Linked DNA regions of Homo sapiens: all the other regions are linked to region 1. Evidence: fine-mapped expression QTL. A gene starts in region 1. Each other region holds a variant in brackets. All regions are shown on one strand. Distances are from middle to middle. Region 1 holds the start of NAIP (NLR family apoptosis inhibitory protein). Region 2 overlaps BDP1 (BDP1 general transcription factor IIIB subunit). Region 3 overlaps BDP1 (BDP1 general transcription factor IIIB subunit). Region 4 has its middle 55 kb from the start of SNORD13B-2. Region 5 overlaps BDP1 (BDP1 general transcription factor IIIB subunit). Region 6 overlaps LINC02197 (long intergenic non-protein coding RNA 2197).

Region 1 (5,326 bases):
ACTGCACTCCAGCCTGGGTGACAGAGCAAGACTCCGTCTGAAAACAAACAAACAAACAAACAAAACAAATCTCAAACATGGAATTATTTTTTCACTTCTCTCTTTTGTTTTGTTTTTTTTTTTTTTTTGAGACAGAGTCTCGCTCTGTCACCCAGGCTGGAGTGCAGTGGCGCGATCTCGGCTCACACTGCAATTTCTGCCTCCCGGGTTCACACCATTCTCCTGCCTCAGCCTCCCGAGTAGCTGGGACTACAGGTGCCCGCCACCACGCCCAGCTAATTGTTTTTTTGTATTTTTAGTAGAGACGGGGTTTCACCGTGTTAGCCAGGATGGTCTCGATCTCCTGACCTCGTGATCCGCCCGCCTCGGCCTCCCAAAGTGCTGGGATTACAGGCGTGAGCCACTGCGCCCGACCTTTTTCACTTCTCTTAATGCTCTGTAAACATTAATGTATTTATATATGTACTTAGAATTTTAAAAAATCAATTTTATTGAGTTATAATTAACATACAGTAAAAATGCTCCCATCTTGAGTAATTCCATGCCTTTTGACAAGTGTTCTGTACCCATGCCATGACCACCACAATCGAGAGAGAACATCTTCATCACTCCAGAAGGGCTCCTTTGCAGTGAGTACTCCCTAGGAGTTCCAGCGGCCGGTGACATTGATCTGTTTTCTGTCACTGTAGATGAGATTTGTCTGTTATATACAATTTTTAAAAATTAAATGATATGTATGGCTTCTTTTGCTTAGCATAATGTTTTTGAGCTTATTCATTTGTTGCATATATCAATACTTTGCTTCTTTTTACCACCTGTACTTCATTTATGGATACGTTGTTTATCCATGTGTTTATCCCCAATGGACATTGGGTTGTTTCTGATTTTTTGGTTATTATTATGAATAAAGTTGCTATGAACATTATTGTATAAATCTTTGTGTGTTCATGTGTTTTCATTTTTCTTGGGTAAATATGTAGGAATGGAATTGCTAGATTGTATGGCAAGAGTATACTTAGCTTTCCATGACACCAGTGAACTGTTTTTCCAAAGACATTGTATTAATACCATTTTACATTCCCACAACTAATGTATGAGCTTCCAGTTGCTCCATATCCTCAACTAACAGTTGATATTGTACAATACAAATGTTAACTTTTAGAATATCTTCACAACTTTAGAGTAGATAGTGATTTCTTAGGACACAAAAACTATCAATCATAACAAAAATTAAAATTGGACTTCATCAAAATTAAAAACTTCTTTTTGAAAGACACCATTAAGAAAATGAAAAGATGGTTAACAGACTGAGAGAATATATGTGCAATGTAAATATCTAACAAAGGACTAGTATGCAAAATATATAAAGAATCCTTATAATTTAGTAATAAAAAGGAAAACACGCAATTTTTAAATGGGTCAAGAATTTAATTACGGCCAGGTGCAGTGGCTCACACCTGTAATCTCAGCACTTTGGGAGGCCGAGGTGGGTGGATCACGAGGTCAGGGGTTCGAGACCAGCCTGGCTAACATGGTGAAACCCTGTCTCTACTAAAAATACAAAAATTAGCTGGGCGTGGTGGTGGGCGCCTGTAATCCCAGCTACTCGGGAGGCTGAGGCAGGGGAATCGCTTGAACCCAGGAGGCGGAGGTTGCAGTGAGCTGAGATTGTGCCACTGCACTCCAGCCTGGGCGGCAGAGCGAGACTCTGTCTTTTAAAAAAAAAGAAAAATATTTAATTACCTTACCAAAGAAGATACATGAATGACCAATAAGCCATTAAATTAAAACTTCAGTGAGTATACACATATGCCCTGAAGTAGCTAAACTTTAAAACACTGCCCTATGTGTGTGTACTTTTTAGCTAAAAAAGTGTTTGAAAACAGTATTATTTTGAAACTCAAAATTCCAAATCCTCTCTTCAAATTAGGTAGTAGTGTCACTGGAAGTAAAAGAGAAGTTACTTTAACTGCTAAAGAGTATCCACTAAGAATCTACATCAAACATCATGTTTAATGCTCAAACTTTAGAAGAATTTATACCAAAAGTCAAGAATAAGATAGGATATCTATCTTCATTATTAAGCAACATTATATTAGAGGACCTAATCAATGCAACAAGGCAATAAATAAAAGACAAAACTGTCATAATCAGATACTACAAACATCTAAGAAAATTCAGGGGGATTTACAGTCATATATTAAACAGTCCAGAAGGAGTCCTATACATCATCAATGAATATTGAGAATAAAAAATAGTTTTTAAAACCCCTCCAATTTATAAGGGCAACAAAATGTACAAGGTACTAAAATAAATGTAATGTGTATTTGGGTATAAATACAGCAACATAATGAAAAGGTTTATTGGGGAAAAAATTACAGGGAGAAGGGTCAACAACGTGAAGAGGTTCCCCTGCCATCTGGACTTCTGGAAAAAGACCTGCTGGTCTAGGCACAGCTGGATGCACCATGGAAAGTGGTTCCAATAAACACTGGCACTGTAACAATTGTGTATGTTGATACAAAAAGAGGGAGCCAATGAATACTTGGTCGATTATTTAACAATTGCTTCTCTGCTGAAGAAATGGCCTTGTTGGACTAGAGCTTAACTGTGGTTCACATACTAATGCTGCTATAACAGCTAGAAGCCTTACTAAGAAATTTGCTAAACCACCAAAAAGAGGAAATGAACCTTCTAGGATATCTGGATTGCCTTTTCTTAAAAATCTAGTCTTGGCTGGGTGCTGTGGTTCACGCCTGTAATCCCAGCATTTGGTGAGGCCGAAGTGGGCGGATCACGAGGTCAAGAGATCGAGACCATCCTGGTCAACATGGTGAAACCCTGTCTCTACTGAAAATACAAAAATTAGCTGGGCGAGGTGGCATGTGCCTGTAGTCCCAGCTGCTGGGGAGGCTGAGGAAGGAGAATCACTTGAACCCAGGAGGCTGGGTTTGCAGTGAGCTGAGATCACGCCATTGCACTCCAGCCTGGCAACAGAGCAAGACTCAGTCTAAAAAAAAAAAAAATATATCTAGTCTGTATGGCAGCACAACATCAGGTAAAAGTACAGACTAGCCAGATCACTGGTTAACCTTAACCCCTATGTGCTTGAGTTTCCTTATCTGTAATATGGAGATGATATAGCAATAGCTGATTTTGGACTGTTAAAGGAATTAAGTGGACACATGTAAAGTGCTTAGAATTGTGCCTGGCAAGTAGTAGGCTGCAATATTGTGATATAATAAATATATATATTTGATCTTCATCCAGTTCCTGGCACAGATCTCCAGAAACCCTTGTAATTTCCTGAGTGACAGGGGTGATAGAAACATCTTTTATTAGAATACTTGGTCTTGGTTCCTGACACAAGAGCTTCTAAGACCTTTGGAATCTCCAAGTGATAAGAGTGTATGACAGTGAGCTAACTGGTGGCTGGGATCCTTTAGACAACTTCAGGATGGGGGCTATCCCCTGAAAGACTAAGGCATGATTAGAGGTCTGGGATTTGCAGCCCCACGCCTCGACCTCCAGAGAGGGTAAAAGGGCTGGAGATTGATTAACCACCAGTTGCCAGTGATTTAACCAATCATGCCTAAGTGATGGCACCTCCATTAAAAAATAAACCACAGGTTTGGAGAGCTTTCGGTTTGGTTAACCCCAACCACATACCAAGAAGGCGATGCACCTCAAACTGCATGAAGACAAAAGGTCCTGTGCTCACCTGGGACCCTTCTGGACGTTGCCCTGTGTACCTCTTCGACTGCCTGTTCATCTGTATCCTTTATAATAAAGCAGTAAACATAAGTAAAGTTTCTGAGTTCTGTGAGCCATTATAAGAAACGATCGAACCTGGGATTTTCCTTTCGGAAGCCGCTCTCTCTCACAAGGGAGAGAGCTGTTCTCCTTTTTCTTTTGCGTGTTAAACCTCCGCTCCTAAACCCACTCTTCGTGTGTATCGTGTCCTTAACCTTGTTGGTGCGAGACGACGAACCCCGGGTATTGACCCCAGACAACAATGCCACTTCATATTGGGGACTTCGTCTGGGATTCCAAGGTGCATTCATTGCAAAGGTGAGTAAAGGGGCGGACCTCAACTCTGTCCTTTGATTTCGAGGCTCTTGGCCTCCATTTTAGAATCAAACCAAACCAAATACTGGGCCCCCTTCTGCTTCTGTGAATGAGAAAACTCTGCCTTCACCAATTAGCCATTTAAAAATTATGAGCGTGGCTGCCAGCCTTACAAGTTTTGGGGGACAGGCTTGCTGGGGAGAACATGGAGAACCCCCCAATACCCACGGGCTGCTGGGCATATTGGCCATGTTTGAACCAGTTTCCTTTCACGGAGGACCAAGCTGTCGTGTGGGGCTGGAAGAGGTCCTGGAGCAACTGAGGATTTCTGGCTGGGGCTACCTCCTGGTGCCATCCGAAGGCTTCTGGACTGACCCCAGCCTCCGGCCACCCTAAGGGGTGTCGGCAACAGGACCTCCAACTTTCCTATCATAATTCCCTCATTTCCTATCCACGACCACCATGTCTCCTAACCTCTCTCTGTATGCAGTACTGAGGGAGTTTTACAGTTCAGGGAAGTAATCTTGTTAGGCAAGAACAAAGACTGCTGTAGTAACCAGGGATATAGCACAGGGGCATGCTGTTGTGATTTTCTAGGAACAGAGGGTCTCCTCTCCCACCACAGTGAGCGTCACTCTCTGCCCTTGCTCTGGAAAGCACATGGCATGTCAAGGTCACTCTGCCCTTTGTCATAGTAAGATTAGGGTGGGGCGCCCAACCTTCCCCGCGTGCTATGTAAACGTCACACCTGTTCAAACCAACCTGTGGGCTCTGCGCAAATCAGACGCCGCCTCCTCAGGCCTACCTATAAAATCTGGTGCAGTCCACCGCAGGCCGGATTTTCCTTTCGGAAGCCCCTCACAAGGGAGAGATCTGTTCTCGTTTTTCTTTCTTTTGCCTATTAAACCTCTGCTCCTAAACTCCCCCAACCCCCAAGAAAGAAATTATCGAACCTGAGGGGGTTGCAGATACCCATGATTTGTAGTGAACTCAGACAGAAGTGTGGGTACCCTGAGGTCCTAATAGTTGTGGCTGGCATCTGAAGTAGGGGGCAGTCTTGGGGGCTGAGCCCCTAACCCGTGGGGTCTGCACTAACTCTGGTTAATTAGCATCAGAATTGAGTAAAATTGTAAGACACTCAGCTGCTGTCTGTGGAGAATTGGAGAATTGGTTGGTGGAAAACCCATATATTTGATGTCAGAAATGTGAGTAGAGAAATGGTTTTTCCTTGATAGGCTCTATGTAAATTTTAGTTCAT
Region 2 (5,326 bases), 530 kb before region 1:
GAACATATAAGTAATGAGGAGAAACTTGAAAAAAGAAGAAAATTGTATGGGTTTGGGAGAGATACTGTCCCTATAAGATACCAAAGTGCATCATAAAGCTACAAAAATTCGGCCGGGCGTGGTGGCCCACACCTGTAATATCCCATCACTTTGCAAGGCCGAGGCAGGCGGATCATCTGAGGTCCGGAGTTCGAGACCAGCCTAACCAACATGGAGAAACCCCGTCTCTACTAAAATTACAAAATTAGCTGGGCGTGGTGGCGGCTGCCTGTAATCCCAGCTACTCGGGAGGCTGAGGCAGGAGAATCACTTGAATCTGGGAGGTGGAGGTTGCAGTGAGCTGAGATCACGCTATTGCACTCCAGCCTGGGCAATAGGAGAGAAACTCCATCTCAAAAAAAAAAAAAAGAATAAAGAAAACTACAAAAATTCAAACAGTATGATGATACTGGCCCCAGAACAAATAGGTGAATCAACATAAAAGAAAAGGAAGTTTTAGGAATATATCCAAACAAATATGAAGATTTACTGTCTTACTGATAAAAGCAGAATTTCCTATCAGTGGAAATAAGATGAATTATTCAGTAAACGGTAAAAGTCATATGAGGAAAATTAACTTGGCCCTATTCCTTACACCAAATCAAATTCGCAACAAATCAGTAATATTAACATTAACTAGGAAATTTAAGTCTCAAAGGACTTTCAATGTATAACATAATCTCCAGAAGCCATACACAAAAAGACTGATAAATCTGATTATGGAAAATAAAAAATGTCTTCTATCTGAATACAGTGTATGTGTATCCTACAATTTTGTACAGGCTGAGCATCCCAAAGCTGAAAATCCGAAATGCTCCAAAATTCTAAACTTTTTGAGTGCTGACATGACACTCAAAGGAAATGCTCATTGAAGCATTTCAGATTTTGGCTTTTCAGGTTTGGGATGTGGAACTGTTAAGTATAATACAAATGTAAGTATAATGCAATTATTCTAAAATTCAAAAAAATCTGAAATTTGAAACACTTCCGGTCCTAAGCATTTCGAATAAAGGATACTCAACTAGTAAAAGCAATTTTTAAAAAATTGTTAAAATGCTAAAAACAAAGTTTAGAAAATAAAAATCACAAATAAGCCAAATGGACATTATACTTTTCTTACATATTCACACCACTGTATAACTACCATTTTTTAAATGGCGTATCATAGTCTGGTGACCTAGTTTTGTACTTAGTAAAGTACTATGGTCTTTTGTCCATGTCATTAAAGATATTTTTAAAACAAAACAAAATAATGTCTGCATGGAATGCTGATAAATTATTGAAACTGGGTGACTGGTACATGGGGGCACATTATACCTAGTCTATCTTTTAATATGTCTGGAAATGTTCATATAAAAAGTTAATCCAAAAGTTCTGCATGAGAAAACAACAACAAAGAAAGCAGAGTCAAGAGACAATGACAAACTGGGAAAAAAGATTTGCAACTCATTACCACAGACATATATAAGAGTTCTTCCAGTTCTCTAAGAAAAAGATCAATAATCTAATTGAAAAGTGGGTAAAGGAAAAGTCAGTTCATAGAAAAGGAAATACACATGGCTCTTAAGCATATGAAAAGATGTTCAATCTTACCCATAACAAGAGAAAATAAAACAGTTCTGGGATATGCCATTTTTTTACTCACCAAATATATAAAAGCACACTTGCTCTTTGTCAACTATTACTCAAGAACTATTGGTCTTTAACTTTCTCTTTGAGAACACGGGTTTTAAAAGGACTTTTCCATAGTGTAGTTACAAATTATGATGAGTACTAGATGAGTATAAAAACAAGAGGGTACTAGGAAACCTACAACATAGTGGTTGGTGACTGAATTCGCATGGTCTGGCCGGACTTCCCTGAGGCACTGATGACTGAACTAAAGAAGTCTGTATGTTTTTCAAGGGAATGTTTCACACAGAAGGTACATCAAATGAAGTGTCCTGGGACATTTAAGGAATTGAAAGATGGCCAGTGTGGCCAGAAAGTGAGGCAGAAGCTGGCACAAAATGAGACTAGAGACAAAAATCAGCAAGACAATGTGGGGCACTAAAGGCTGTGGTTTTACTCCTAAAAGCAATGGGTAGCTTTAGGCATGATGATGATGATGATGATACTAGTATTATCATTTTACATATTAGGAAACCTGATCAGAGAGAGAGGTGAAGTATCTTGCCTAAGGTGTTACAGCTACTAGGTGGTAGAGCCAAGATCCAGACATATATAATGCTTTTGGTCTTATTTTTAGCCACCAATACAGAGCTGGGAATAAGTTTCTTGATTACTCTCCATCAATTTTCATTTACCATTGGTTAAAAGTGATAATCCAAAACCAGTTTTACTTGAATAACTTATGATGATAAATGTCAGAACTATCTTTATATATATCTAAAAGTTTAAAGAGAATAAAGGAAAAAATAGGAACAGATCTGTTGCAATATGGCCATCTTACTTAATGGCCATATTGAGTGGTACTTAATATACCACTTACCTCAGTGGTATATTCTTGACAGTCATCTCTTAAAGTGAGTGAACGTTTTTTGGCAGGAGGAATGTGGTCATTTTTATCAAGCCTGCATTGAAATCTCTTCCTAGATACAAGATCCAAATTATCAGGCGGCTTTTTAGAATTATCTCTTCCAGAAATAGATAAACCCATGGCATCTTGACCAACTGAAGTTGCTGGTAAACAAATACTGCATAGAAAAGAAATACATACTAAATTACTGAATTAGAAGTTATTTAACACTTTTTTTTTTAAAGGATCCTAGAAATCCTTCCAATAATAAAGTTAAAGGCTGAGGTATTCCAATGAAAATTCCAATAAAACCAAAAAACTCCAAACTAAGAGATACACGGCCATGGCCCCAAAAATGCTATTAATAGTTTTGAGCTCCATTCATACTTCAGGGCTTATAACTTAAATTCCATAGTATTGAATTAAATCTGAATATTACCCTCTCCCTCTCCC[TCTCCCC/C]ATGGTCTCCCTCTCCCTCTCTTTCCACGGTCTCCCTCTGATGCCGAGCCGAAGCTGGACTGTACTGCTGCCATCTCGGCTCACTGCAGCCTCCCTGCCTGGTTCTCCTGCCTCAGCCTGCCGAGTGCCTGCGATTGCAGGCGCGCGACACCACACCTGACTGGTTTTCGTATTTTTTTGGTGGAGACGGGGTTTCGCTGTGTTGGCGGGGCTGGTCTCCAGCTCCTAACCGCGAGTGATCCGCCGGCCTCGGCCTCCCGACGTGCCGGGATTGCAGACGGAGTCTTGTTCACTCAGTGCTCAATGGTGCCCAGGCTGGAGTGCGGTGGCGTGATCTCGGCTCGCTACAGCCTCCACCTCCCAGCCGCCTGCCTTGGCCTCCCAAAGTGCCGAGATTGCAGCCTCTGCCTGGCCGCCCATCGTCTGGGATGTGAGGAGCCCCTCTGCCTGGCTGCCCAGTCTGGAAAGTGAGGAGCGTCTCTGCCCGGCGGCCATCCCATCTAGGAAGTGAGGAGCGCCTCTTCCCGGCCACCATCCCATCTAGGAAGTGAGGAGCGTCTCTGCCCGGCCGCCCATCATCTGAGATGTGGGGGGCGCCTCTGCCCCGCCGCCCCGTCTGGGATGTGAGGAGCGCCTCTGCCCGGCCGCGACCCTGTCTGGGAGGTGAGGAGCGTCTCTGCCCGGCTGCCCCATCTGAGAAGTGAGGAGCCCCTCCGCCCGGCAGCCGCCCCGTCTGAGAAGTGAGGAGCCCCTCCTACCGGCAGCCACCCCGTCTGGGAAGTGAGGAGCGTCTCCGCCCGGCAGCCACCCCGTCCGGGAGGGAGGTGGGGGTCAGCCCTCGCCAGGCCAGCCGCCCCGTCCGGGAGGGAGGTGGGGGGGTCAGCCCCCCGCCCGGCCAGCCGCCCCGTCCGGGAGGGAGGTGGGGGGGTCAGCCCCCCGCCTGGCCAGCTGCCCCGTCCGGGAGGTGAGGGGCGCCTCTGTCTGGCTGCCCCTACTGGGAAGTGGGGAGCCCCTCTGCCCGGCCAGCCACCCCGTCTGGGAGGGAGGTGGGGGGGTCAGCCCCCCTCCCGGCCAGCCGCCCCGTCCGGGAGGTGAGGGGCACCTCTGCCCGGCCGCCCCTGCTGGGAAGTGAGGGGCGCCTCTGCCCGGCCGCCCCTGCTGGGAAGTGAAGAGCCCCTCTGCCCGGCCACCACCCCGTCTGGGAGGTGTGCCCAGCGGCTCATTGAGAATGGGCCATGATGACGTGGCGGTTTTGTGGAATAGAAAGGGGGAAAGGTGAGGAAAAGATTGAGAAATCGGATGGTTGCCGTGTCTGTGTAGAAAGAAGTAGACATGGGAGACTTTTCATTTGGTTCTGTACTAAGAAAAATTCTTCTGCCTTGGGATCCTGTTGATCTGTGACCTTACCCCCAACCCTGTGCTCTCTGAAACATGTGCTGTGTCCACTCAGGGTTGAATGGATTAAGGGCGGTGCAAGATGTGCTTGTTAAACAGATGCTTGAACGCAGTATGCTCGTTAAGAGTCATCACCAGTCCCTAATCTCAAGTACCCAGGGACACAAAAACAGCGGAAGGCCGCAGGGTCCTCTGCCTAGGAAAACCAGAGACCTTTGTTCACTTGTTTATCTGCTGACCTTCCCTCCACTATTGTCCTATGACCCTGCCAAATCCCCCTCTGCGAGAAACACCCAAGAATGATCAATTAAAAATAAATAAATAAATAAATAAATAAATAAACAACTAAAAAATAATAATAAAATAAATCTGAATATTTAATAGTATTTTCCCTAATTGTAAAGTTAAACGTTTAACCTAAAATGTCCCTTCTAGTCCAGGCGCAGTGGCTCACGTCTGTAATCCCAACACTTTGGGAGACCGAGGCAGGTGTATTACCTGAGGCCAGGAGTTTGAGACCAGCCTGGTCAACATGGTAAAACCCCATCTCTACTAAAAATACAAAAAATTAGCCAGTGTGGTGGCACGCACCTATAGTCCCAGCTACTTGGGAGGCTTAGGCACGAGAATCACTTGAACCCGGGAGGTGGAGGTTGCAGTGAGCTGAGATCACGCCACTACACTCCACCTGGGCAACAGAGCAAGATTCTGTCTCCAAAAATAAAAATATTAAAGTCTTCAATTTCTAATGCTACACGATGGACAATTATCTTAATTAATGGTAGTTAAGATATAACTTACTTCCAAAATAAAGAATTAAAATAAGAGTATCAAGAACAGCTGGGCACAGTGGCTCATGCCTGTAATCTCAGCACTTTGGGAGGCCAAGGTGGGAGGAATGCATGAGGCCAGGAG
Region 3 (5,326 bases), 460 kb before region 1:
TGATAATAAATAATCAAACATGAAATACAACACTCCAAATTCTGATGCTCTTTGACTGGCTACAACTATCCTCTATGCTAGAGAGATATCAAATAACCCAATCACGCCAGTTAAAAATTTTAAAAGAAAGCTATTGTTTTGGACCAGATAACTAGTTGATTGAAAAAACATATACTCCCTCCAACTGGATGCTTTGATGATCTTAACTACCTGAGCTACACATGAACTCTCAAAGGCCTGAGGGACAATATTGCAAGTTTATTACTACTAAGTAAACTATCACACTTCCTTTTAAAATCAATACCTTTTACATTTTTCCGTGGTTTGGTGGATTTCTTCTCCTTTAAACTGTGATTTTTAACAGATTTTTGTTTTCTTTTCTCTTCTTCAGCAAGAACTTTCTGAAGCAAATGAGCAAAAAAATCGAAGTCAAAAGGGCGCTTTTCCTCTGTTTAAAGAAAAGGAAAAGAACTTTCAAGTTTTTATTTTTAAAAGCTACTTCTAGCTTTTAAAGTATCATAACATCAAAAGCAAATGGGTTTGTTTATCAGTAGGAGAACAGAAAAACAAATACACAACAGAACACCACTCAGCAACAGAATAGGTTGGTCTTAGCAGGGAAATAGATTAGTTCACATCAGAACACCACTCAGCAACGAAACAAATAAACTAGTTTATTACAAATAATAATTTATTACAAATTTGTAATAATTTGTTTATTGCAAATAAACTAGTTTTAAACAAAACAAAAGGAACAAACTACTGATACATGCAATAATATGAGGGAATCTCAAAAACATACTGAGTGGAAGAAAACAGATACTAGGGTACATACTATATGATACCATGTATAAGATATTCTAGAACACACTAAGCTATCTATGGTGATTAAAATGAAAATAGTGGTTGCCTTGGGCCAGGAGGACAGCATTTGATTGTTCAGAAAGGGACATAATAGACCTTGTGAAGTGATGAAAACATTTCCTCTATTGTTTGGGGTAGTGATTACACAGGCATATTCTTTGTCAAAACTTGAACTACACTTTGAGCTGTGTATAAATATAAATCAATTTTTTTATGGACTGAGAAGTCCTTGAAATGCCTGTTCACCACCATATGCCCTACCTTTATCACAACCATTTCACCATTTACTCTTATAAGTATCAGCAAAGTGGGAAGTAAATGAATTTAATCAGGAACATGCCCACTAAATACCTATCAACAGCATTATATCTGAAAGTAATCAGTGAACACTCCAGGAATGAATCCAGACCAGGAGGCAAATCCTTGCTTGAACTTAAAGTCAATGTAGAGAAAATGGTGCTCTATGCACATAAGCCAAAGACTGGTTTGATTACAAGATAGCCTCAGAAAAGAAGGTATATACTAAAATAAAAAGAATCTCTGGAAACTAAACCCAAATCTGGGATTCCTGAAGACCCTATTTCACTGTTGACCCAGACTTCATTTGTTCTGACTCTCCACAATGATTCTGAAAGACATAGCACTCAAAGAATCATAAAGGATCTCCACATGGTTCTCAGAGAAATTCAAAACATAAGTTCTCTCAAAAAACTTATATAGGTTTTAATTTAAAAAAAAAATTTCCAATAGAAAGCCTCCAAATCAATGAGTTGTTTCTAGTTTTGAGATAGGATCTTGCTGTGTTGCCCAGGCTGGCCTCGAATTCTTCGGCTGAAAAGATCCTCCTGCCTCAGCGACTCCTGAGAGTAGCTGGGCCTATAGGCATACAACACTGTATCCTGTTTAAGATCAATAAATTTTAAAAATATCTATTATAATAGTCTATAAAAATGCTTCACAATCCAAATAGACTGTTTATAGATTTACGAATTATTTTCTGACTATAATGTGTTACACTTAATGAAGTTTCAGGACCACTTCTCTAATATGGAATGGGCTGAGGAGCACAATATTCCAGATCTTCTAAGAGCCATTCCTCAAAGCAGTTTCCCTAAAGACCCGATAAAACACTGGGTGTAGGATCCACCCACCTACCTTAGTGTCTACTCATAAAATAAATATACATGCTACATAATGTAGGTACTCTCTACATTTGGATTTTTTTTTTCTAAAATTAGCACTATGGCTAATCTTACGACTAAATGGACATTGAATACATTTATTAATCATAAAATACTGATAATTGTAAATCCACAAAAAATATATTCCTGTCCACAGCTGTGGTGAAAAAAAGACCTATCTTGTAATCAAAAAATACAAGAACTATTTTTAACAGTAAATGTATTTTTCTTTATAGATCCTTTGATATCTTTCTCTAGACTTGAAGAAAAATATGTTAATTTTAATGAGGATTTTAGTTAGAAATTGCAAGATATCTATCATTCCTTCAGATGAGATCTAAATTCAAATGCTAGTGTATCTCTTCAGACAGAACTTCC[C/G]TAATGATCCAATGATCATTAGGAAAAAAGAGACCTAAACATCCACCCTCTCTTTTTTCTTCTTTTTGGAAATGAATCACTACCTAAAATTATGCTTATCAACTATATTTCTTCCGCCATCCAATCAGACTTAAGGTTCTAAATGCAGGATTCTCATCTGCCATTTATCTTCCACCATTACATGCTCAATACCTAGAACAATGACTACCATATAGTAGGTGGTCAGTGTTATTGACTGAATGACTGATTAGTCATTCAGAACCAGAAAGAACCATCTATATAACTAATAGTACTGTCTTCCAGAAACAATGATCTCCTCCCATACAGTTCCTTCAGAATAAATAACACTTAGAAGTGGTAGCATCAATCCCTCCATAACTTCTTGGACTTAGAACTGTTTACCTGCACCTAGATGTTCTGGATAATCTCCTGCCAATATATTTGTAGCAAGTGCCAGACCCATACTGCTAAACAGAAAAATTTCAGACTGCTTCCTCTTAATGCCAATACAGGAACAAAACAAATCTAAAACACACTAAAGCCAAAGACAAAAGACTGGTCATTTTTTAGGCTCTTCAAGTAATACTTTGTAAAAGAGGTCTTAATACTTACGGAATGCTTTGTCTATTCTCCATCCATTTGTTTTCTCTTCCCGTTTAAATTTATTCTGTTAACAACAAAAAACCCTATGGTAATTTTCTCTCATAAAACAAGCATTTTTTTTTAAATGCAGTAAGCATTAAAATGAAACTCTTAGGAATAACATACTGCTCTCTACTTAATATGTCTTTGCCAATAGGCAAGTTACTTAAACCTTCGGCTTTTTAAAAATAAGGATGAAAGATTTTTACTGAGCTTCTTGATTCTCATTACCAATAGCATGAATCAGCAATGGAAGCTGGATTTACAGAGGACAGAAAAAAATAAAGTCAACAAACATGAAAGCAGATCAAACCTATGACTAAGCTCACTGGTATTAACTTTTAAAAAATTAAGTATTCGTAACAGGTTAAACCTCTGACATCATTGTTCTAATATATTTCAAGTAGCATGGAGAGAAGACTATAGAGAAACAACTAAGTGAAATTTTGAAGCAGGCCAAGTTTATCCTGACAAACTTCTATATATTAAGGCACATTTCCTCACATTTTTCTCAGCCCCAAAAATCCCTGTCCTCAGTTTACTACCAGATTACTTCCATTAAGAGGGAGATGTTTAAGGCTTAAGGCTCAATCCATCCTAAAGTCATTAGGAAGACTGAGGGCATAAGTTTGTGTCTGAAGACGTCTGATCACGCAAACACATCGTAGGAGAGGAAACAAACAGCCAATGTTTCCCATCTACACGTCAGTGATCTACAAGTTTTTATTAAAAGCACAAAAATAAAGCTTTTTAATTGCAAAAAAGAGAGAGAGAATATCACATAAAACAAAGGAAGTACTTCATGCCCCCTTCCTCCCTTCAAAAGAACTTAACCACTAATATGACTTGTAAAGCAATCACTTTCTTGTATTTCCTTATTGTTTATGACCCAAGTGTGTATTCTTAGATGATACAGTTTAGCCTTGCCCATATTTTTAAAACCTGATATGACATTAACATCTTTTAATGTACAGGTTGCCCTTCTTTCCCATTCTTTTGTTTTTCTTCACAAAACTTATTATCAATACAGAAGTTTTCAAAGATAATCTTATTTCTGCCTTAAAAGATCATACTGTTATTTAAACATTTCCTCAAAAGTTAACAAATGTTACCTCCACAAAAAATGATTGGCTATAAACACTAAATTAAATGTCCTAAAAGAAATATCAATAGGCTTCAGGCATTTAATTCTAAAACAGTGCTACCTCATATTTTACTTAATTGGTAATATAATTCAGAACAATTTAAAACTTTCTCAAAGAAATATATTGAAACTAGTCAATGATTTCATAGGTAAGAACCAGTAACAGGCCAAATTCCATGATCACAAAATAAATCCCATAATTTCCACTTCTGGCCTTGGCAAAGTAACTCATTATGGACAGGTCCTACATATCCAACTCCACCACGAATGACTTTTAACACTGACAAAATATATGCATCAATTATTTTCAAGCAAAGGACAATAGTGAGAGCAAGACTACAATCACGGAGAGAAGGAAAACAGACAAGATGTGCCCATGTTTACCTTGGCTCTCTGCCTGGGCTCAATTTCCTAACCAAGGAAAGGGAGGTGAAGGCCAAACAGGGTACAGCAATCCAACTAGGCTGCAGAGGTAGGGAATCTTTAGGAGCATAGTTCTAAAAAGGAACTGTGTAGAGGGGTACCTCACAGGCCTGGTGGAAATACCCCATGATACCTTGGCCTAAGTATGGGTTGCATATGTCCAGAATATAAGGCTTAAAAGAGAACAGCTGCTAAAGCCATGAAGGCAGAAGGAAGATGCTAAAAGTCATAAAACACCATATGACAATAGAGTTCAGGTGCATCCTAATGGAAAGACCTCATTAATACCCAAATACATTCACCTCAGACACCAGAAAGATCACCATTAGAGATAAAAACGATACCCTAGAGTAGCCTTTCTCTACCAGGGATGTAGCATGAGAATTAAGTACTAATGCATTAAAGCAGCCACTGTATGCAATGCATTCCCTTCTCTCACTTATCTATTAATAGTATAGTATTAGTATAACCATCCTTAGAGAACTTAGAAAATAATAACTCATGCCTACCATGAGACTGTTCTGGGAAAAGAAGAAAATAATAAAATATAATAGTAATTCAAATTATTTTCTGTAAATCAGATGAGAAATCCCATTGGAGAAAGGATGTCCTAGATTAAAGACCAGTCTAGATCTGCCTCAACAAAGCTTTAAGACAAGCCTTAACAGGAACAAAGAAGTTGGCAGTACATTAA
Region 4 (5,326 bases), 120 kb before region 1:
ATGAAAGGGGGAAATTTGGACACAAAAATGCCACCAGAAAGCACAACATATGAACATGAAGAAAGCCATCTAAAAGCCACGGAGAGATGTCTAGAACAGATTCTTCTTCACAGCCTTTAGAAGGAACCAGTACCTTGAATTCAGACTTCTAGCCTTCAGGACTTGAGATAATACATTTTTGTTGCTTGAGGCACCTAGTTTATGGTACTTTGTTATATAACCCTAGGAAACTAATATAAATGTTCAATCCATTTACATTTAATCAGTGATGTCAGTGTTGTTAAATCTACCATGTTACTATTTGCCTACTATTTTCTTATTTGGGTGTTGTTCTCTTCCCTTGGTTGTTGATATTTCTTTCTTCACCGGTTCAGTGTTACCTTCCTTAGAGTAAATGGATATTTTTCAATATTTCATTTTAATTATGCTATTGGCTTTATACCCTTCATACATGTGTTCTTGTTGATTCGATGTTCTTGGATCTCTGCATTGAAATTTTTCATCAAAATTTGAAAACACTGGCAATTATTTCTTCAAATATATTTTTTCTTTCCCATTTTCTGACTCATCCTTTTGAGACTTCATTTGTGTATAGGTTTGATGGCTTGATATCCCATGTCATTCAATCTCTTATTTTAATCATTTTCCTCTTTTGTTTGAGATTAGATAAATTCAAAAATGGTTTTCAAGGTTATTTGTCTGCTTTTCAGATAGCTGAAATCTGAGAGTATACCCTGCCAGTGACTCTTTCATTGTATATTTTGCACTTGTTACTTCAACAATGTTCATTTCTCAAAATTACCTTTTTCGTTCTATCATTGTGACAATATCTCCATAGTCTAAGGACATATTCATAATATATATCTGTTGATTTCAATGCCTGGGTCATTATGATGTATGTTCTATTGACTGCTTTTTTCCCCTTGATTATTTATTAAATTTTCCTGCTTCTTTGCGTAACTTGTATTTTTGACTAATACACTGTAGAAAATCTAGACGTTGTCTTCTTGTAAAAGGCCCTAAGATAGTCCTTTGAAAGCTGTTAAGTGGCTTCCAGATCCTTTTGATCTGCCATGCCTGGTTTCATTATTTGTTAATGAAAATCTCTTTCATTTTTGTTCTTAAAGATAGGACATAGTCTTTACTGAAAGAAATAGTCCTTGTTCTTAATGCCTGGAATATTCCGTAAAATATCTTCCCTGTGGCTAGTCAGTAACCCAAACATCTCCTTGTCCTGTTACTACTGATATCTTATTCCCACAGTATCTGCTTTCAGCAGGTCTTGCAGATGTTAACCCTGCTCAGGTATAGAGCAGCTTTTGACGAAATTGGTGCCAAATACTTATTCTGGCTTCTGTAGGCCTACCCCATGCCTCTTTTTCCTTTCCTATACAAATTTCAGCCACTTCAGCAGCTCTTAAATAACCACTTAAGCAAGTGTAAGCTATTTACAAATATCGATAGATAGATAGATAGAGAGAGAGATGATATAGATAGAGATTTAATTGTAATTTTAGATTCAGGGGGTATATGTGCAGGTTTGTTACAAAGTTATATTGCTTGCTGCTACTGTTTGGGCTTCCACTGATCCTGTCACCCAGGTAGTGAACTGAATACCTAACAGGAAGTTCCTTGGCTCTTGTCCCTCTACCCCTACCTCTTTTTGGAACCTAATTAAACTAAGAGCTTCTGCATAGCAAAAGAAATTATCAACAAATAAGCAGACAACCTACAAAATGAGAGCTTTAAGCTTTAATTTCTTCCTCTAAACTCATTATTTTTAGAGTCTGCCTCCTTGTTTAATGGGAGAAAAAGTGCCCCTAGTCACATTCTCTGGTTAAATGTGGTACTTACCTCACAGCTTTCTTCTCTCTTGAGTATGAAAAACTTGTACTTCTTGTTTGATGCATAAAATCTGGTTCCTCATATATGTTGCCCAGTTTTATCATTGTTTATAGTGAAAAGGCAAGTCCCTCCAATAATTCTATTATGGCCAAAGACTAAAGTGCCTCTGATATGACTTATGTCCTTCAGAAATTGCTTACTCTTTAGTCTGTTGGTAGAATTCTTCTCAACTTTCCATAGTTATTTTAATAAGTACTATATTTTCCTATTTCAATGGCAATTTGGAATAAAGGAGAAATAAATGTATTTGTTTGGTCCATCTTTGTGTATTCAAACTGTTAAGTCATTACTTTTCACGTCCACTACACATATTACTGCACAGTAATTCCTTGTTTACACCTATAATCTCCCTCTCCTGTTTTCCTAGTTTCTATTCAAGTATTTGGGGTAACTGATATTTCTTAAAACAATATGTATTCTTGGAAAGAGATGTTTCTAGAATCCCCTTCTTAGGTGACTTATTAGGAAAAATTATAAGAATAAGAACGAGAATAGAGAAGAAAAGTAATTGAAGACATCCACTTCAACTCTAAATCCCCCTAGGAGAAAAAAGGCTAGCACTTATTTAAATGCCCTTCTTAGGTGACTTATTAGGAAAAATTATAAGAATAAGAATGAGGATAAAGAAAAGTAATCGAAGATACCCACTTCAACTCTAAATCCC[CACAGGAGAAAAATGGCTGG/G]CACTTATTTAAACTCATCTAGGTTTTAGTTTTGCTGATGTTGTTTTTCCAATAATAATCCGTTTCAATTATTATAACAGCAATTTCAGTGAAATATGGTACTTACCAGCTAAGTTTTACACAGGGAAGCACTTTCCTAAACACTTCCCCATCCTTCTTCAAAGTTTGAATCCAAATCTTTTGTACTCCAGGGCTTATTTTGTTTTTCCTACAGCATTCTGCCTTTCTAGAATTAGCACTAGTTACCCTCAGGAAAAGCAAATACATGGACCCATAAAATAATCTTTGGAAGTCTTTCTTCTCCTGCTAGTTACCAAATTATAATCTTCTTATTGTAATAATAAAATAAAATAAAAAATAAAAAGAACTATTTTACTCTAATAAGTTTCCCATTAAGCTAAGCCTGCTTTTGTTGTATTAGAGATTAACATATGTAGACAGTGTTCTTTTTGACTGGAAATGGGGATTAGTTATGGTTCAAGTAATGCATAAACAAGATGTATTTTTAAAAATACGTCATATTTATGCATTATATTTAAGCAGCCATTTGTAAAAAGCTGAAACTTATTAGAAAGTGAATTCTTCATACTCATGTTTGTATTTTCAATGTTTAGGATTATTTGTTAGCTTAGGTATAGACTAGATTATTTTTCTAAACAAACAGGAATAAGAAATATAGGTAGTAAAATTTACATGACCTGGTAAAATTTAAAATATCCATTCTGACTAACAGGCAGTGATGAGAACAATAAATAAAATATATCTTGGTTTAAATTCTAAGTAAATATATTTGACAATATAAATATAAACATACTCATATGAGTGAATTGCTTCTAATTCTGGCTTTTAGCTAAATAAGCACTTAATGCTAGTAAGAAAAATACATTATTTCATAAAGATAACAAATTCTTTCAGAAATAGTAATTATATTTTTAAAGAGTTTGGGGAAAATAGAAGTGTATACTCTAATCTTATAGCAAAGTTTCTGCTAAGTTTTTGTGATGCCAGTGTTTTCATTATGAATCATTTCACTGTCAAACAAAATGTACGCTGTTGATTAAACACAGGCAAAAAGAGACGGAAAAAAAAAGGTATATTAAAAAAAAGACCTTTGGTTATTCTGGCTGCCACCAATTGCTTTCTTGTTTCAGCTGAATTTTGAAGTAGCTAATCATATTTTGGCATTTTCTTGTCATCAAAGCATTTCGTGAAATTATCCCATTACAATGTTTTTCTCAGAGGCAAAATTAACATGGTTGACAGTTTAATTGACATATTTCTTTTTCGTTGTGTGCCTTTGCCAATTAAACAAATTGCACCCTATTTTGATGTTCATTTTGTTAATTATTTGTAAAACTGTAGACTCTGATTTTTTTTTTTTTTAATTTTCAGGTGTCAGTTTCTTGGTCGGGAATGAAAATAGTGCCAACCTGTGATACCTTCACTCTAATTTTACTTTCTGAGGAAGTTTTCTGTAATAGTTATTTGGTGATAATTATTAATACTGGTGAGTTTTAAAATTTTTGCTTTCAGCAATTTTCCATTTTTTTCAACATACTTATATCGCAATGAGGCAACCAAATATGAATCCTGAGAATGAAGATGGAAAATGAATATTTTAATCCAATATCGAGTTGTTCTTTCAACATTTTTAGTTTTAGTTTTAATCGAAAATATAAAGTTACATAATTGTGTGAGGAATAATTTTTGCAGAGAAATTTTTAAAAATTCACAAAAGGAAAAAGAAACCTTTACCATGAGTCTATAACATTGAAAGACTGTGTTTAAGTTATTTTAATAAAGCCAAACCAACACTTTCAGCAGGAACTAAATGGCAGCATCTGATTTCACGCTGATACATATGTATTAGTGTGGTGCTCACTTTTACCCTTCATTTTACCTTGGGTCTTGCCATTTTCTTTCTTTTTATTTTTATGTTTTTTTGTGTTTTGTTTTCTTCTGGAGGAGGTAATTTTTAGGGAGAAAAAAAACACTTTTTCCTCATAGGTCGATTTAAAATGTTGGCCTTACCTTAATCTCCTCTCTCAAACTCAATCCACTATGTAATGGGTCAACATACTTTTCTGTGAAGGAGCAGATAGTAAATATTTTAGTCTTTGCAGGCCATATGGTCTCTGTTGCCAGCTCTTCCATTGTGGTGTGAAAGCAGCCATAGACAACACAGAAATGAATAAGTGTAACTGTTCCAATAAAAACAGATGATATGTTGAATTTAGCTCACAGAGTTTAGCTTGCTGCCCCTGCAGGAGGCCTTTGGAGTAAAAGCTTCCTGAGAGGAGGACTTTTTGTCTTTTTTGCTCAAGTTCTAGCTCCAGTACCTAAAATAGTGCCTGTCACGTAGGTATTGATGAATATTTGAACCTGTTGAACATACACCTAAAATAAAACATTTGGCAAGATACAGTACTACACAATTTGGAGAACACTTGGCTCCCATAGAAATCAAAGCCTTCCTGAGTAATTAATTATTTGGCCTGATGATGAATTACTGTGCCTGAGATGATAGAGCTAATTTATTTTTCAATTCACTCAGGGGACACACGTTATTTTCACTGTGAATTTGGTTAAAATGAAAAGATTTCCTGCTCTAAGTCCTGGATAGACCTTTATGTAATAGCATACTCTTCACTCTTTTTGAATCACATGCAGTTGTCACACTGGATGATTTCCAGACAGAGGCTCCAAGTCTTTCATCATGTTTGGGTTAAAGACCTCAT
Region 5 (5,326 bases), 440 kb before region 1:
CAGGAAGCACCATTTGATCTCATTTCTTAAAAAATGTAGGAATAGAATATATTCAAAAATAAAATACTTACTCTCTTGTCTGGACTGGAGTCGATGGCTTTTCAGTTTTCTTTTCTTGTTCCAGTGAAGAACTATTGAACATAAATAACAATATCTTTAATAAATTATTAATTTATATCTTCCCAATTCTATCTGTAGGCAAGAAGAAAATTATTCTAACTTCTAATTTTTAATGATATATCACAGCATTTCGTTAATGACAGTACAATCCAACAATCAACTTTTCAGTCAAAAGCTTGTCATCACATACAAATAATTTGTTAGGTCCTAAGTAAAGAATACTTTTTTTTTTTTTTTTTAATACAACAACAGGGTCTTGCTGTGTCAGACTGAAGTGCAGTGCTGTGATCTCAGCTCCATGTAACCTCTACTTCTTGAGCTCAAGCAATCCTCCCACCTCAGCCTCCCACGTAGCTGGGACTACAGGTGCATGCCACCACACCAGGCTAATTTTTGTCTTTTAATTTTTTGTAGAGACGAGGTCTCACCATATCGCCCAGGCTGGTCTCAAACTCCTGGGATCATGCAATCCTCCCACCTTAGCTTCCCAAAACACTGAGATTACAGGCATGAGCCACCACGCCCAACAGAGAATGTTCTTATCCTCTAACTTCTCAGTGAAAGGAGGCTCCCAATCCCAAGGCATGAAGCAGCTTACTTAGGTGACTTGTCTCCAACTCCTGGATGTTAAACAACTCAAAACCTAGGTTTCTGGCCCTTTCTTCAACAGGGCCAAAGACCTGGTGAATCTGAAAAAGGGCTATGCTGAGGAACTGTCCCAACTCCTACCTCTACCTGCTAAACCATCAACAATACAACAATGAGATTTATTATAAACCTGCCTCAGAAACCCCAGGCTAACTTTAATAAAGAAGCTTTGTTCTTGGAGGATTTATTAATCACACTACTACTGTCTTTATTAGAAGGCAGGGCATAAAACTTGGATCACTCCTTTAGATCAGTTTATAGTATGTTAAAAATAGAAATTCCAATCCTTTCAAACATTTTTTTTTTAAATGAGACAGAGTCTCGCTGTCTCCCAGGCTGGAGTGCAGTGGTGCAATCTTGGCTCACTGCTGCCTTGAACTCCCAGGCTCAAGTGATCCTCCCACCTCAGCCTCCTGTGCGCCACAATGCCCAGGTAATTTTTGTATTTTTTGTAGAGATGGGGTCTCACTACATTGCCCAGGCTGGTCTCAAACTCCTGGGCTCAAGCAATTCTCTCGCCTTGGCCTCCTAAAATGCTGTGATTACAGGGATGAGCCACCTCGCCTGGCCAAAATTGCAATCTTGATTACAGAAAAGTGGCTTAGTTGGTTTCACTATGCCTTGGTAACTAATATAACAAAGAAAAAACATTTTTTTTTTTGAGACAGGATCTCGCTCTGTCACCCTGAGTGCACCCAGAATGCAGTGGCATGAACATGGTTCACTGCAGCCTCAAATGCCAGGGTTCAAGCAGTCCTCCTGCCTCAGCCTCCCAAATAGCTGGAACTACAGGCACATGCCACCATGCCTGGCTAATTTTTGTACTTTTTGTAGAGACAGGGTTTCACCATGTTGCCCGGGCTGGTCTCAAACTCCTGGACTCAGGCGGCCCACACACCTTGGTCTCCTAAAGTGCTGGGATTACAGGCATGAGCCACTGTGCCCAGCCAGGAAATTTATTTTTAATCTCAGAAATAAAGGGCATAATCTACCATCCCCAGAAAGCAGTTACTTGAAATACTGCTACTTTTTGTTATGAAATTCTATTTAAAAGGACATATGTGTTCCAAATTTTGTCAACATGTTTTTGGAAAACTAAAAAATTTACTATAAAAGTGCTATTTATATAACTACATACCCAAATAAAGTAAAACAGAAGGCCAGGTGCAGTGGCTCACGCCTGTAATCTCAGCACTTTGGAAAGCCGAAGCGGGTGGATCACCCGAGGTAAGGAGTTTAAAACCAGGCAAGCCAACATGGCGAAACCCAGTCTCTACTAAAAATACAAAAATTAGCCGGGT[G/A]TGGTGGCGAGCATCTGTAATCCCAGCTACCCGCGAATCTGAGGCAGGAGAATCGCTTGAACCTGGGAGGCAGAGGTTGCAGTGAGCCAAGATTGCACCACTGCACTCCAGCCCGGGTGACAGAGCGAGACTCCACCTCCAAAAAAAAAAAAAAAAAAAAAGAGATAGTAAAGCAGAAATAAATTTTACTTACGTCATTGGATTATTATCTGGTAGATAATATATGAAGTCTCTCATAGTCATTTTTGAACGATCTGGTGGCCTCTGACTTTCATTTATAGCATATTTGTTTTTCCATTGTTTCTGTATACATAAACACACAGATCCACTTTTATAAATATTAAAGAATTTCAGATGTACTATATGCAAATATACAGTCCACTGTTGCGTTCACTGTAAGTGCTTTAATATTATTCTCACCCCAATTATGTAATTTTGTAGATGGAATATTAAAAAGTTGTAGCACATTACCCTCAATAGCTTTTAGTTTTTATTTATCTACTTTTGAGATGGGGTTTTGCTCTGTCATCCAGGCTAAAGTGCAGTGGCGCAATCATAGCTCACTGCAGCCTTGAACTCCTGAGCTCAAGCAGTCCTCCCACCTCAGCCTCCCAAGTAGCTGGGACTACAGATGCTTGCCTAACACCTGGCTAATTTTGTGGGGTTTTTTTTTTTTTGGTAGAGATGGAGTCTCCCTACGTTGCCAAGGCTGCTCTCAAATTCCTGGGCTCAAGTGATCCTCCTGCCTCACACTCCTAAAGCACTGGAGTGAACCACACACCCAGGCAGTATTTAGATTTTAACAATTAAAGTGACTAGGACTAGATAAAAGCTCAATGTGGCCAGGCACAGTGGCTTATTTCTCTAATCCCAGCACTTTGGGAGGCTGAGGCAGGAGGATCGCTTGAGCTCAGGAGTTACCAGCCTGGGCAACATAAATGAGACCCTATCTCTACAAAAAAATACAAAAAAATTAGCTGGATGTGGTGGCATATGCCTATAGCCACAGCTACTTGGGAGGCTGAGGTGGGAGGATCACTTGAGCCTGGGAGGTTGAGGCTGCAGTGAACTGCAATTATACTAGCGCACTCCATCCTGGGTGACAGTGAGACCTTGTCTCAAAACTAAATAAATAACCAAAGAATAAAACTAATAAAGCTCAATGTATAAAATGCTTACTGATGCCTTCTAACTAAACATCTTAATAGCTCACTGAGAATTTATGCTTACACAGCTTTTTTTTTACCCTGTAGTGACTTGAAATTCTGTGTATTTTGTAAAATTCTTGAAGCAAATGTTTAATCTTTAATTCCCCAAAATAAATTAAATAAGCAAATAAGCAGTTTCTGTAAAATACAGAACTTTTTTTTAATCCCCCCACCCCCAATTCCCAACCCATAAAACATTTTTAGAGGCTTTGATCTGTCGCCCAGGCTGGAATGCAGTAGCACAATTTCAGCTCACTGCAACCTCCGCCTTCCAGGTTCAAGCAATTGTTGTGAGGCTTACATTTTAGAAGACATAAATTGAAAGCTTGTTTTCTCCTGTGTGAAACAGTGATATCTACTTCACATAGTTGATATAATTACATAAGATAACAGATATAAAGCACCAAGCAAAATGCCTTCCCTTAATTTAAAAAAAACTAAGAGGCATTTTATAATTCATAACAGAAGCTGACACTGGTTGGACACTTACTATTTTCATGACACTAGTTTTTTTGTTTGGTTGGTTTTTTTTGAGACGGAGTCTCGCTCTGTCACTCATGCTGGAGTGCAATGGCACGATTTTGGCTCACCGCAACCTCTGCCTCCCAGGTTCAAGCGATTCTCCTGTCTCAGCCTCCTGAGTAGCTGGGATTACAGGCGTGCACCACCACAACCAGATAATGTTTGTATTTTTAGTAGAGACGGGGTTTCACCATGTTGGCCAGGCTGGTCTCGAACTCCTGACCTCAGGTGATCCGCCCACCTCGGCCTCCCAAAGTGCTGGGATTACAGGCGTGAGCCACTGCACAAGGCCCAAGACACCAGTTTAAGTGTGTTTTACATGTATTGACTCATTTAATCTTCACAACCCTCTAATGAGCTAGATAGAGGTTGAGCATCTCTTATCTGAAATACTTGAGACCAGAAATGATTCACATTTTGGATTTTTTCACATTTTTGAATACTTGCAGAATACATGCTGGCTGAGCATCTCTAACCTGAAAATTTGAAATCCAATATGCTCCAATGAGCATTTCCCTGGAGCATCACTTTGGCACTCAAAACATTTTAGACTTTGGAGCATTTTCAATTTCAGGGATGCTCAACCTGAACTATTATTGGTCTATTTTACAGATGAGGAAATAGATTAATTAAATTACCCAAGGTCACAAAGCTAGTAAAGAAATGAAGCTGAGATTCAATCCCTAAGTATTTAACTCCAGGGCCAGCATGCTCTACTGCTGTTACCTGCCCTTCTAGAAAAGAAATCAATCCTCAAGATTAAAAAGAACATGGACTCTAATATATGCATAACACAAATTTTTCCCACTTGTAATTTTCCATAGTCAATTTAGAAAACATTACCAATTCATTCTGCTCAACTATATTCGTCTTTTTTTTGGAGACAGTTTCACTCTATCACCCAGGCTGGAATGCAGAGGCACAATCTCGGCTCACTGCAACTTCCACCTCCCAGGTTCAAGCAATTCTCATGCCTCAGCCTCCCCAGTAGTTGGGATTACAGATGCACGTCACCAGGCCCAGCTAATTTTTGTATTTTTAGTAGAGACAGGGTTTTGCCATGTTGGCCAGGCTGGTCTTGAACTCCTGACCTCAAGTGATCTGCCCCCCTAGTCCTCCCAAAGTGCTGGGATTACAGGCATGAGCCACCACGCCCGGCCTATACTTGTCTTAATTCAAATAAATATATCACTTATCACTTGGACATCTTTATGTGAAAAATCAGACTGAAGGTTTATTTTATAAATATGTTTGTGTATGTGCATCTATGTGTATGCGTATGAAACTTATTTGTGGTCTTCACCAAAAACAGTGAAAACATAAATAAATAATGTAAAAATTACTATCAGTGAAAAATGTAATTTAAGTCCACGGTGTATCAATCAATCCATTAACAAGAAGGGATGTTCTATTGACTAAGGGATGTTATGTGGTTTTGTTCCCCCATCAAAATGCTACAAATGCTTTTCTTCCCAATGATTCCTTACTAACATAAATAGAAGGCAACATCAAAATCCTGATTCTCCT
Region 6 (5,326 bases), 340 kb before region 1:
AGAAAAGTTATAAGAGTACCTGGTTCCCTGTTTTGTCTTAAAGGATTTCGGTTCATAATTGAATTTATATTAAGCATGAACAGCAGTTTGCAATTGACATTGTTTCATTCAAAGCTAGTATCTTCATGTACATTCATGAGTCCAACATATATATATATATCTACGTATATATGTACACATATATATTCAATTATATATATAATTATACATATATAATTGAAACTCAATAAGATAAAATGTGTCATGTCCAAAATTAGAGGGAAATTTGACAGCAAAACAAAAGATTAACTAAAATCTTTGTCTCTATGATGTTAAAATTAAGATCCTGCAGATATGACTCAAGACCTATTTGATCTTATTTGTATTCAAACATGCATCTGATGTGTTAAAATTAACATAATTTAAAAAATGCTTCCATCAAATTCAAGAAGAATTCATTTAAATAACCTTCTGATAAATATAAAAGGAAGACATTCATTTTGTTTTTTTCCCCAACTTTATAAAATATCAATTATTATGGCCACTTTGGGAGCAAATTTTAAGAAAGAAAAGCAACTAAAAATGTCACCGACATTGAAAAAGACATTTAAGTGATACCTACTTGTGTGTTCTGAATTGGTTTTAAATATAGTTTTAATCTTTCTATATTTTGTATTATAAAATAAATATAATTCTTTCATATTTCTAACACTTTCACATTGCAAATGAGGTACATAGGCCACTTTATTGATGAACAACTTTCAGAACCTAAATCTTTAAAATTGCTGAGCCAAGCTGCAACACTAAAATACATTATCTAAATTGTGCATGAAAACAATAAAAGACCATGAGTACTATTTTTTAGTACTACAAGTCAGGGAAGATTAACTTGAATTTAAATAACAAATAAAAGTTACCACAAAGGGAGCAAGCTTTTAAACTGTGAAATAGCTCTAGCTCTACAGTAGAAATCTTATGGTTTTCATATGATAATTTTTTTCAACATATCTTTTTCTATTTTTTAATTCAAAATGTAAAAGTAAATTATACCTCCAAGACCATGTTTTTCTCATTCTTTGTTTCAACAAATTGCTGATCTCTTTCAAAACTGTCATTTTCTGAAATGAGCAGTAGTGTACACAGAGAAATAAAAGAGGTTATCCAGAGAAATTGCAGGTGCTTCTCCAGCCTAACCTTAATGACAGTTTATTGCTGGTCCATGGGGCCCAGTTTTGTTTAAGCAATTATCAGACTGCTTTATTTATGGCGCCCTTGTGCCTGTTTTTGGCAATGGGGTCGCAATAAATTATCAAAATAACGTTAATGTTACAAGAATAGGCTACTTTAAAAATAGGTGGCACCAATTACAATTGAAGGAGAATAGTTAGATGAAGATTTAAATTATGCCAATTGCTCCTGGGAAATTGATGGGATGGATCAAGAGGATCTTCCCTGACTTCTAATACATGCATGCGCAGGGTTATTTCTCACAATTAAAATCAGAAATGTTAAAGGGGAACTTACAATGAAAGAGAAAGCCAATTAATCTAGTCATCATTAATCACTGAGAAAGACACAGTAGTATACTTAGTAAGTGTCCTAAAGCAGCATCCAGAGAGAGGGAGAGAGACCATCAATCCCAAAAGACTCAAAAAATCTTTAGGGAGATGTAGAATTATGCCAATAGTTTGCATATTATAACGATAAGACAAAGCTGGGAAGGCCTGTTCTGATATAACTTGCATGCACAGTCACACACCTGGGACCACGTAGAATTTACTACTAAAACGTGAATGGCAATTAATGTACAAAATATGAAAAACAAAGTTCAAACAATATGTGTTTGCTGTCAAGATTACTTCTAAGAAAATTTGTAAGGCAAGTTTTGAGTTGTAAGAGGCTCTTAGAAATAGAAACTGTGCTTTGTAAATCATACTGTAAGGCCAGATTAAAGAATTTCATAGAGAGATATTCACACTTAAGACTAACAAATGCTTCGATTTTAGAATAATTCATGAATTTGCTATTTTCTTCATGATGTCAGCTCATGTTTGGTTATTTGCTACTGATCATTTCATCTTCCCTTGCTTACAATTCCAGAATCATTTTATTAATTTATTTAATTATTTATTCATTCATTTATTCTGCTTGGTCAAAGTTTCAGGTGTTAAATGATATAGGCTTCATCACAATAGCAGATTTCTTCCCACTTTTGTTTATGTCTATCTGATTATGGTATCAGCATTATTTTTTCTTTCCAACTTTAGAGCTACAATACTCAGGTAAAGTCGGTCCCTGGGATTTAAAACTCAAAATAATTGAATAATATGACACCACAGTGGTAGAAACATGCTTCTATTAATATGAATAAAACAGAATCACAGGGTAAATGCACATATTAGACTTTTGTATGTGGTTGATTATAATGTATATATAATTGAGGATTGACCAAAGCATGGGTGCAATTAGGCATACAAGTTCTTCTTCATAATGGTATTTTTAGTGCCAAATATAGGTCTCCAAAAGGTTCTTGGTGGGTATACTTATTGTGAGATGGCATGATTTGTCTTTGATGCACACTACCCCATGTTAGAATGAGCTGTTTCATTTGGGGACACAACACAAGTAACAGCTCATCTGCTCTCATTTACAAGAGCTTCTATGTAGTAAAATTGAGAGTTGTGTTTTTTTCCAGCGAGTTCAATTATTTAGGGTAACCTCACTCCACATGGAACTCTTCCCCCAGATGTCCATGTTGTCCATATTGACAACTCCT[A/T]CCTTCCAAAATGTTTGTTGACTTCTTACCTTCTGGTTGAGCCTGCATTTGCCTCCTCTCCTTCCACCACACCTACCATCTTAATTTCTTTTTTCCTGCTCTACTTCTCTTATTTTTCATCACATATTTCTTTCAAATCTGCAATATAACTTACCTATCCATTATACTTATGACTTATTTGTTACTTTCTTCTTCAGGGTCAGATTTTCTTCTGTTTAGTTTATTCTTGAATTCCAAAGTGTTTGAGAAAAGAACTGGACCATAATAGGTACTGTGAAAGCTGATTATTTGAATTGGGGCATTCTCGTCATACCCAGTGAAAACAGAGTCAAGAGGGCAGGGGCAAAAAGCACTCAGGACACAAAACATTGCTCTCCCAAAATGTAATTCACTGCAAGTCTGGCTGCTGAAAGTGCCTGCTGTAACCTCACAACTGTTTTATCTAATAGTTGCCAAACAAACCTGCTACAAATCTAAGATTTACTTTACCCACCATCAGTCACCAGTCAGACGTTCCAGCTTCCCAGAACCTTACCAATGCTAATGAACTTTCTCAAAGAGCAATAATTAATATTTCTTTTTTTAGTAAAACCTCCAGCCTTCTCTTCATTCTTCAGACATGCTGAAGACCACTCGGTCTGAATATATGCCCTGATTTGCAAATTATTTATTTCTTAATTAAATGTTAAATTTAGAGATTCCTCTTTACATTTCTATTTTGACTTCAACAGTCCTCATTAATATTTCCTGAATAAATGAATAAAAATATCAGAATTAATGTGCATTTTGAAAAATCTCTTATGAAATATGAGAGAAAAATCTGTTATACGCTTAGATCCTTAACTTGATCGGTATTCACCTTGTAATATGCTTTTATCTTATGTAGTCTGGTTTTAAAATGTTAAGGAAAAAAATACACTTAAAAATGGACCTAGTCATTTTTACTCAGCAGTACCATATCATTTGAAAAACGAAAACACTCTAAGGCGGTTTTGTTCCTTTGTTTTTGTTTGGTCTGATTTTCTTTCTTTTTTTTTTTTCCTTATGTGTTCAGCCTCTTTAATGTGAATAACTGCTCTTAGTTAAACAGTCTCACAGCATCCACTTACAGTCTCCAAGTTGCTTTCACATTCTTTGTAAAAATAAAAGCTCAGTTAAAGACACTACTTTCTTTTATGGTGCAATTTGTTTGCTCTTACACTGGTTCACTCTCTTTGCCATTTGATTTCCTCAGTTGAGCAATTTATGACAGATTTTTAAGGTCTACTGTCCATTACAAAGAGCAGGTTTTAAAAACTCCATCATCATCATAAGCTTAATGAGTAAATGGCTGGAAGCTCAGCAGCTTGGTGGGGGGAGTGTGTGGAGGTTTGACTCTGACAGCCAACTTGCTGTTGCTGTAATTAATAATGAAATGTTAAGTCTCTTGCTTTTTATGTGGAGACAGGGAAAGTGACAGGGATTATGGAGAGAAATAAATTTACATTGTAGCTTTATAAAGCATCCATAGCTTTAGGAGCTCAATATATACAAAATTACTGTTAACATGACAGTTCCCCAAGAAAGTAGTTACAAAAATATTTAAAGCTCTGGGCTGAAGAATCAGGACATTGTAAGAATGGAGAGGAAGAAAAGACACTTTCTTGTATCCTGTCCCTCCTTTCCTGCTGCTCAATTTCTTTCTACTCAGCTGCTTATAAAAAGATGAAAGATATGCTAACTTGTCTCCCTGAGTGAATCTATTCAATGTCACCACCCACGCACTTTCCAACAGTGACAAAAGTTCCTATCACATTCCTCTTCTCAACTCACCTGATGGATCCCCCAACTACACCCCACCCCCTATCCTAGAAAATATTATATTAAGAAGTAGAAGAACTGTGGGATTATCTGAATGAGACCTGCCAGTGAAGTCCATATCACTGACTATTAAGTCATGTTTACCACAAGCTAATAGCCCATAGCTCAAGCGGAACGCTCACCATCTCTAGCCTTGTCCTTCTTCCAAATCAGTGCATGTAGGCATGTGCTATCTTTGCCTATTAGAAGTGATGGGTAGAACTCTTCATCTACCATTCGTGGAATCTGAAGATGGTACAAGGTCATGATGGTCACGCTAGCTTGGTAAACTGGTGGAAAATTAAGTGCAGGCTCTCATAATGAAACAAAATATTATCTGAACTGAAGCATCTTGGATACTGTTCTCTGTAATTCTTCTCCCATTTGCTTATTTATTCCTTCTTGTTTTCCCTGTGCAAACTGCATCATTGCTAATATGGCTACTTGATCAGTGGTAGTTCCTCATCTTCCACCATTATCCCATTTCAGATCTATCTAAAAGCCTTACTTGTGGATAAGAATAACCAAAAAAAATCAAATTAACTAGTTAGATAATGACTGTATCTATCTTTTATGCTGAATTAAAATAACATGATTAAGTGAAGACTAGCATACTTTATTTTAACCGTTCACTTCATCATCGACAAGGGTATAAGTTTAATTATGTATATGTACATGTAATTATGTATAGATGTATAGAATACAAACAAATTTAACCATTTTACTTATCCA

Evidence for each region. PIP is the estimated chance that this variant, and not a neighbour inherited with it, causes the effect.
Region 2: its variant is fine-mapped to the expression of NAIP in whole blood (TOPMed, PIP above 0.99).
Region 3: its variant is fine-mapped to the expression of NAIP in whole blood (TOPMed, PIP 0.96).
Region 4: its variant is fine-mapped to the expression of NAIP in thyroid (GTEx, PIP above 0.99).
Region 5: its variant is fine-mapped to the expression of NAIP in whole blood (TOPMed, PIP above 0.99).
Region 6: its variant is fine-mapped to the expression of NAIP in whole blood (TOPMed, PIP above 0.99).

The regions. Positions count from the first base shown.
Region 1 is chr5:71,023,063-71,028,388 of GRCh38, reverse strand. It overlaps NAIP (NLR family apoptosis inhibitory protein), which reads left to right and starts at 3,050. Exons shown (of 17, transcript NM_004536.3): 1 at 3,050-3,774; 2 at 3,983-4,071. RefSeq lists cis regulatory regions at 1,457-2,921, 3,287-3,500 and promoters at 2,922-3,286, 2,691-5,296.
Region 2 is chr5:71,550,525-71,555,850 of GRCh38, reverse strand. It overlaps BDP1 (BDP1 general transcription factor IIIB subunit), which reads right to left. Exons shown (of 39, transcript NM_018429.3): 35 at 2,531-2,735. Among named protein-coding and RNA genes, the nearest start is that of MCCC2, 34 kb to the left of the region's middle. The variant TCTCCCC/C (reference allele first, on the strand shown) is at 3,011.
Region 3 is chr5:71,481,606-71,486,931 of GRCh38, reverse strand. BDP1 (BDP1 general transcription factor IIIB subunit) reads right to left here. Exons shown (of 39, transcript NM_018429.3): 8 at 3,036-3,090; 9 at 305-448. Among named protein-coding and RNA genes, the nearest start is that of BDP1, 29 kb to the right of the region's middle. RefSeq lists an enhancer at 3,236-3,530. The variant C/G (reference allele first, on the strand shown) is at 2,424.
Region 4 is chr5:71,141,414-71,146,739 of GRCh38, reverse strand. No RefSeq gene overlaps it. Among named protein-coding and RNA genes, the nearest start is that of SNORD13B-2, 55 kb to the right of the region's middle. The variant CACAGGAGAAAAATGGCTGG/G (reference allele first, on the strand shown) is at 2,570.
Region 5 is chr5:71,458,863-71,464,188 of GRCh38, reverse strand. BDP1 (BDP1 general transcription factor IIIB subunit) reads right to left here. Exons shown (of 39, transcript NM_018429.3): 3 at 2,263-2,372; 4 at 72-131. Among named protein-coding and RNA genes, the nearest start is that of BDP1, 5.9 kb to the right of the region's middle. The variant G/A (reference allele first, on the strand shown) is at 2,070.
Region 6 is chr5:71,367,129-71,372,454 of GRCh38, reverse strand. All of the region lies in intron 2 of LINC02197 (long intergenic non-protein coding RNA 2197), which reads left to right. Among named protein-coding and RNA genes, the nearest start is that of LINC02197, 77 kb to the left of the region's middle. The variant A/T (reference allele first, on the strand shown) is at 2,756.